2 linked regions of the Homo sapiens genome follow. The gene in region 1 interacts genetically with each later gene. Each region holds a gene or a part of one and is shown on either strand. Other genes may lie near its edges.

What was found.
Region 2: changes in SSRP1 (region 1) and ATR are lethal when combined (synthetic lethality), as found in Homo sapiens cells (one large-scale study listed by BioGRID).

What each region holds. Positions count from the first base shown.
Region 1 is NC_000011.10:57,329,341-57,333,156, forward strand, and holds part of SSRP1 (FACT complex subunit SSRP1), read right to left. Parts: intron 3,810-3,816; coding exon 3,619-3,809; intron 3,516-3,618; coding exon 3,285-3,515; intron 3,147-3,284; coding exon 3,043-3,146; intron 2,941-3,042; coding exon 2,812-2,940; intron 2,550-2,811; coding exon 2,328-2,549; intron 1,588-2,327; coding exon 1,515-1,587; intron 1,402-1,514; coding exon of another isoform or gene 1,270-1,401; exon of another isoform or gene 1,090-1,269; coding exon 951-1,089; intron 799-950; coding exon 753-798; intron 1-752. UniProt on the Homo sapiens protein: Component of the FACT complex, a general chromatin factor that acts to reorganize nucleosomes. The FACT complex is involved in multiple processes that require DNA as a template such as mRNA elongation, DNA replication and DNA repair.
Region 2 is NC_000003.12:142,568,734-142,572,549, reverse strand, and holds part of ATR (serine/threonine-protein kinase ATR), read left to right. Parts: intron 1-3,816. UniProt on the Homo sapiens protein: Serine/threonine protein kinase which activates checkpoint signaling upon genotoxic stresses such as ionizing radiation (IR), ultraviolet light (UV), or DNA replication stalling, thereby acting as a DNA damage sensor.

The sequences.
Region 1 (3,816 bases):
GGGTGGGCACTTGGCCTATTTCTGGCCCATCAGACCCCAGCCCATTCTAATAACTCAGGCTAGAAAGGGGCAGGTAACCACTGTGTTCACTATGCTGTTCACCAAAAGAGGCACTTCTGGTGTTGTTTTAAACCAGTAGGATTAAGCCTGCCCTGAGCTTCTGAGAGTCACTGGGCACCCCATGGGGTAAACCTATTTTTAATTAAGGAAATCGGAAGAAATAGATTTGAGCGCCTGAATCCAGTAGTGTCTGAAGCCAATTAAATCCCCAGACTCCGCAGTAATATGAACTTATGAAATTCCCTTTTATATGTTCCCTTTTAAAGTGAGAGTGAATCACATTTCTGACACTGCTAACAAAAAGTCTTAACCAATTTAGCAGGGGTACTACTGCATTTCTACTGATGAGGAAATTGAGATTCAATGACTTACTCGACAACCCCCAGCAAGTAAGTGGCAAGCACCAGCTCATTCCCATTCTCTCCTCATCCAACTACGAACCAGCCCCAACTGGCACATTCAGGGCGGTATGGCCATAGATCCCACTATACTTTTCCGACTTCAAAATATGTCTTGCACTTACAAAGCCCTTGACAATTTCCAAAACATTTTCGTATATCACCTCATTGGAGGTCACTCTCCCATTCTGGGTCAGTAGCTAATGCTGGGACCTGAGAAATGTCCAGAAATCTTCTGGTCCCTTAAGCTTATGGGTCACCATCTTATCCCCACAAGGTACCACCAAAACTCACTCCTCTGCCACATCTTCCTCCTCTTCACCTGGGTTGAATGACTCATCTGAAAAAGGGCACAGGATGCATCAGCTTCTGCCCCAATGGAAATCCCCCCACCTCACCCAGGCACCCAGCTCTGGCCCAAGGGTGAGTCCAGCCCGGGCCACAGCGAGGAGCGTCTGACCATCCTCGTGCTCAGCACGGAGGCTAACCCACCGGTTTCTTCTCCTGAGTCATCGCTGCTGTCATTGGCATTCTCCTCCCGGATCTTGCCTTCCTCCTTCATCCTCTCCAAGTAGGCATCATGCTGGTCCTCATCAGAGTCAGCATATTCATCGTAGCTTGGGTTCATGCCCTAGCCAGGGAAGAGTTCACGGTGGGGCCAACTCACCCTCGAGCCAGAATCCCTGCACACTCAAAAGCACACCCCCATGCCTGTCAAGTCAGAGCAGCAGCTCCCAGAAGACCTGGGGCTGGATTGTCCACACACAGCCAACGTGCAGGGCCTATGCCCAAGTACTTCCTGCCAACTGGGTTAGTCCAAGCCCCAAGCCCCTCCCTCTCCCAGCCCCACTGGGGGCTCCTGAGGGGCTGCATAGACTGGTCTAAGGTCATGCAGAGGAAACCTGCACCAGGAGGGGGAAAGGGTCACACGCACCTCTTTTTTCTATAAGGGTAAGAAGAGAAGAAAGAGTGAAAAAGAAGCCGGAAAAAATCTCCACCCCTTTCTCCCCTATAGAAAGACCAGGAGAGGGTCTCATCCTCCCCACACAGAAGTACCTCTTTCAATCCTCGGTTTTTGATGTTGAGCTTTTTCGCGTTGACAAAATCAAACAGTTTCCCGTACTCCTCCCTGTGAGGGGACATGCACCATGTTACCAGAGAGGTAGTGCCAACACAGGGGCACACTAAACAATGTTCTGATTCCATGAGCTGGGGTAGACTGTGGAGCCTGGAGCTCTTGACTATGCTACCCAACCCAACAGCTTAGAAACCCCCAGAGGACAGCAGTAAGGCAGAGCCAGAGCCAGACATTAGTCCTGAAAGAACTGCATGGCTTTGAAGAACTCTGGGAAAGGAAAGGCAGGGAGGGGTGCGCATCTGTTTACAAAATAAGCTCAGAGGGGAGTAAGTGTGGGGCAGGGGACGTGGTCATCTTTTTTCATACTTCACAAGGTTGATATGAGGATTACACGTGAAGATGCTTATAAAACGTTTAGTCCACAGTGAGCACTCAATAAGCATTAGCCGCTATGTTCTCAGGCACAAAGCTCATTCCAGGAAAGAAAGAGATAGCATTTCCATCATGGTGGGGAGTGGAGGAGAAAAAAGACCAGTAGCGAAGACATATAGCTTTCAGAATACGGAAAAAGTTTTTTTTGTTTTGTTTTGTTTTGTTTTTTTAATGACCAGAAAGAAAGCAATGGAGAGGTTTCTAAAGTCTGAGCACTCCAGGGAAAAGGACCAAATCCTGATGTAGCAAAAGAAAAATTCTGCTCTAGGGTTGGAGAGTGCCCCAGGCCACGCCAGCCTTCCTAGACAAAGCTGGCTCGGGACCAGGATGCCCAGGAAGTGACAGGTGGAGGTTCTCACCTCTCAATGCTGCTGAAGGTATACTGAGTGCCCTGCTTGGTCTCAATTTCAAAGTCAAAGGAACGAGTAGTAGTGGTACCACGAGCAAAGTTGACAAAGGAGATCTCATCGAAGCGGATGTGCACAGGTGGCTTGTGGACGTAGATGAAGCCCCGCTCCAGCGGGTAGAGCAGTCCTGAGCTTGCCTTGTAGGAACAGGTAATGCACTGGGCCCCTGAGTGCCTGACAGAGGGTGCAGGGAGCCTGGTTAGTGCCAACCTCAGCAGAGGCAAAGGGCGTATCTAGCAGCAGCGACACGAGTGCTCATGTCCTCGACTAAGTAAACCTCACTGAGCTGTTCTGACAGAGGCGCTGGCACCTATTGTGACACAAGGTCCCATCCAGGCCTCTAGGAGGCCGCATTCCCATCTCAGGAAGGGTTTACCAAGGAGACACGGCATTTCCCATACCCAGGCAGGGCAGGATCCCAGGCCCACACTCTCACCCTTGGAAGTTGCCTGGCACTGTGATCTTGCGGTTTACCAGTGCTTTCATGACCCGGCTGACCATCTCATAGAGGGATCCTGACATGTTCTTGGTGAGCCGACCCTCAAAGCGCTTCTCCACTTCTTCCCTACAAAGAAAGCAAGGTGAGGTCACAACACTACTGCCTTCTAATGGCACACCTGTCTCCTGCCTGGACAGTGGTAGGAAACGAGTCCAGGGAGACACTCACTCGTTCATGTTCAGAGTCAACGAAATGTCCTCGTCCTTGGAGAAGAGGAGGATCAGGAAGTGGTAGCGAGTTTGGCCTTGCTTGATTGGGGGATCCAGGCTGATCTAGTAAGGAAGAGTACTAATTGACACTCTACAACAACTTGCAATTAACCAACGTAGAATTCTGCACACCAGTGAGATCCATCTACTTAACACTTAGGCAAAAACCAGGATTATCCGGCCATAGGGGTTTCTGCTTACCACAAAGAACATCTGGCGCTGGTCCTTGTGGGGTAACAAAAACAGACGCAGTACTGTGGTGTAGGGGATCTTGTAGTCAAAGGTCTTGCCATGCAGGTGCAGAAAGGTGGGGTAGATCCGAATGTCATAACGACCACGAGGAGTCAGACACTGCAGCTCCCGGAAGATGCAGATGGCATCTCCCGTGGCCTGGATTACATCCGCCTTTGACAACACATTCTGGGCAAAGGCCTGCAAAAGCACATATTGGTAGCCAAGCAGCAGGCCCTGCTCCCAGGCCAGCCAATGCCTGCTCAGCACCATCTGCTGCCAAGGCAACCAGGGGAAGCCTCACCTCAACAGGGTCCACACCATCCTCCTGGGTGGGTGGGACGTAGAAGCGCACCTCCATGAGAGACACCTCTGCGTCATCGTTTTGGTGGAATTCCAGTGTCACCTCATTCTTGCCTGTGGTGCACTGGGACACATTGCTGAGGGGTATCTCAAAGACTGGCTGGTCACCAATGTCAAAGGAAAGCAGCTGCCCTGTGAG
Region 2 (3,816 bases), on another chromosome or scaffold:
CTGCCCACCTTGGACTCCCAAAGCACTGGGATTACAGGCATGAGCTACCATGCCCGACCAGTATCAGTTCTTTTATGGCATTTATTAGCTGTAAATGCTATTGATCCTATATGTAATCAATTAGGATTGGACTTTGTGGTTTGAATAATCAAAAAAAAAAAAAAAAAAAAAAAAAAAGTCAGGCCGGGCGTGGTGGCTCACGCCGATAATCCCAGCACTTTGGGAGACCGAGGCGGATGGATCATGAGGTCAGTAAATCGAAACCATCCTGGCTAACATGGTGCAACCCCGTCTCTACTAAAAATACAAAAAATTAGCCGGGCGTGGTGGCACGTGCCTGTAGTCCCAGCTACTCGGGAGGCTGAGGCAGGAGAATCACTTGAAGCTGCGAGGCGGAGGTTGCAGTGAGCCGAGATCACACCACTGCGCTCCAGCCTGGGCGACAGAGCGAGACTCCGTCTCAAAAGAAAAAAAAAAGAAAAAGGGCCGGGTGCGGTGGCTCACGCCTGTAATCTCAGCACTTTGGGAGGCTGAGGCGGGCGGATTACCTGAGGTCAGGAGTTCGAGCCAGCCTGGCCAACATGGTGAAACCCCGTCTCTACTAAAAATACAAAAATTAGCTGGGTGTGGTGGCACACGCCTGTAATCCTAGCTACTTGGGAGGCTGAGGCAGGAGAATTGCTTGAGCCCGGGTGGCGGAGGTTGCAGTGAGCCAAGATCGTGCCACTAACTGCACTTCACCCTGGCCGACAGAGCGAGACTCTGTATCAGAAAAAGAAAAAAATTCACTCTTTTTCTTTTACCACTATTTGAGATAATAAGTGGGGAAAATGTATGAACATTTTACAGTGCTATATAGAAATAAATTGTGACATATATGAAATATATGCTATTATTTATAAGTAACTGTCTTACTACACCCTAAGTTGTTTTGTCAGAAGTGATGGACTTTGCTAATCACTCACACATAACCCACTGTGAATCCTCTAGGTAGAGTTAATCATTCCCTGCTTTGGGTGTACATGATACTTGCTTTTGATTATTTATTTATTTATTTATTTATTTATTTATTTATTTATTTATTGAGACTGAGTCTCGCTCTGTCGCCCAGGCTGGAGTACAGTGGCGCGATCTCGACTCACTGCAATCTCCGCCTCCCAGATTCAAGCGATTCTCCTGCCTCAGCCTCCTGAGCAGCTGGGACTACAGGCGCCCGCCACCACACCCAGCTGATTTTTGTGTTTTCAGCAGAGATGGGGTTTCACCATGTTAGCCGGGATGGTTTAGATCTACTGACCTCATGATCCGCCTGCCTTAGCCTCCCAAAATGCTCGTATTACAGGCGTGAGCCACCATGCCCGGCCGCTTTTGATTATTTAAGTGCATTCCTCTCCTCTCCCCAGCAACTATTCTGAGTTCTTTGAAGCAGAGGATCTTGTTTTACTTGCCTTTTGAATTTATTAAATTATTTGCGTCTGTACCCATCCATTCTTTCTATGTTTATGAAAGAGTTACCCTCCTGTCCAAGGATTGTCTTTTTACTTATATCTGGTTCCAAGAAGAGGAGTCACATCTCAAGAATTGGTTGCTTAGGTCTTTCCATTATAAGGGAGAAACAAAACAAAGCCCTCTTGATCTCATACAGTTCTTTAGTTATCACCAACTCTACTTCTCTTCATTTCATGATCAAGCTTTGGAAAGAACCCGCTATTCTCAGTATTCACATTTCATTAGATTTTCAGCCCCTTGCAATCTGGCTTCTCTCTTTACTGCTACAGGAAAATTTTAAAAGTCCAAAAGGCATACAAATACCTAAACATAAGAACTAAAACTATGAAACTCTTAGAAGTGAACATAGAGGGGGCCGGGCATGGTGGCTCACACCTATAATCCCAGCACTTTGGGAGGCCAAGATGGGTGGATCACCTGAGGTCAGGAGTTCCAGACTAGCCTGACCAACATGGAGAAACCCTGTCTCTACTAAAAATATACAAAATTAGCCAGGCGTGGTGGTACATGCTTGTAATCGCAGCTACTCAGGAGGCTGAGGCAGGAGAATCGCTTGAACCCAGGAGGCGGAGGTTGCGGTGAGCTGAGATCGCGCCATTGCACTCCAGCCTGGGCAACAAGAGTGAAACTCTGTCTCAAAAAGTAAATAAATAAATAAAAATAAGGGAACATAGAGGGAAAACATTATGACACTGGATTTGGCAATGATTTCTTTGATATGACACAAAGCACAGGCAGCAAAATAAACAGATAAATTGGAATTCATCAAAATTAAAAACTTTGTGCATCAAAGGGCAGTATCAATAGAGTGAAAAGGCAACCCATGGAACTGGAGAAAATATTTGCAAATCATATGTCTGATAAGGAGTTTAATATCTAGAATATATTAAGAACTCCTACAGCTTAACAACAAATATAACCTGATGAAAAACAGAAAAAGAACTTGAATAGACATTTCTCCAAAGAAGATATACAAATGGACAAATAAGCACATGAGAAGATGCTCACAATTACTAATCATTAGGGAGATGCAAATCAAAACCACAGGATACTGTTTCACACCCATTATGATAGCTATTAATAAAAAAACAGTTGGGGCTGGGCATGTTGGCTGATGCCTGTAATCCCAGCACTTTGGGAGGCTGAGGCAGGCGGATCACGAGGTCAGGAGATTGAGACCATCCTGGCCAACATGGTAAAACCCCATCTCTACTAAAATACAAAAAATTAGCCAGGCATGGTGGTGCATGCCTGTAGTACCAGCTACTTGAGAGGCTGAGGCAGGAGAATTGCTTGAACCCGGGAGACAGAGGTTGCAGTGAGTTGAGATCATGCCACTGCACTCCAGCCTGGTGACAGAGCAAGACTCTGTCTCAAAAAAAACCAAAAAACAAAAAAAATCCCACAAAAAAAAAACACAGTTGGGCATGGTGACTCATGCCTACAATCCCAGCACTTTGGGAGGTCAAAGCAGGCAGATCGCTTGAGCCCAGGAGATTGAGACCAGCCTGGGCAACGTGGTGAAACCCTGTCTCTACAAAAAATACAAAAAATTAGCTGGGTGTGGTGACATGCACCTGTGGTGCCAGCTACTCAGGAGGCTGAGGTGGGAGGATCTCCTGAGGCTGGGAGGTTGAGGCTGCAGTGAGTTATGGGTGCACCACTGCACAGTAACCTGGGCAACAGGGTTAGACCCTGTCGCCAAAAGGGGAAAATAAAATAATAATAAAAAAACACCCAGAAAATAACGTGTGTTGGTGAAGATGTGGAGAAATTGGAACCCTTGTCCACTGCAGGTGGGAGTGTACAATGGTACAGCCACTGTGGAAAAGGGTATTAGCGTTCCACCAAAAATTTAGTTTTTATGTGCTTCAGAAGGGAGGAAGTGAATGCTAATTGGTCCATAGGCAGTCATGGGTGGGCCTGGAAAAAGCACCCTAAGTTCTCGCTGTGGTCCGTGTAACTGGCAGCCAGGCTTCCAGGCTTCAAGCTGTTCCTGGCTTGAAGGTGGGTCTTCACTGGGGACCCACCCCTTTCCTCCCAGGAGCCTACTTCCTGCTGCCATCAACCTGCCACCCACTACACCGAGGCTGTTCGTGCCGAGGGGCGCCTGCAGGCCCATATTGAGCTGCCCTCAGCCTACCGCTTGGCCTGCCCAAAGTCCAGAGGGAGATGAGGCAGCAGGGGGCTGGTGTGTCAGTGCCGTCCTGAGCACATGCACACGCGGCCTGGTCCTGACAACACCTGGGCTCCCCCACAACTTTGCTCCGAAATTGGTGTGGGTGCCGGGAGCGGGGAGAGGCCAGG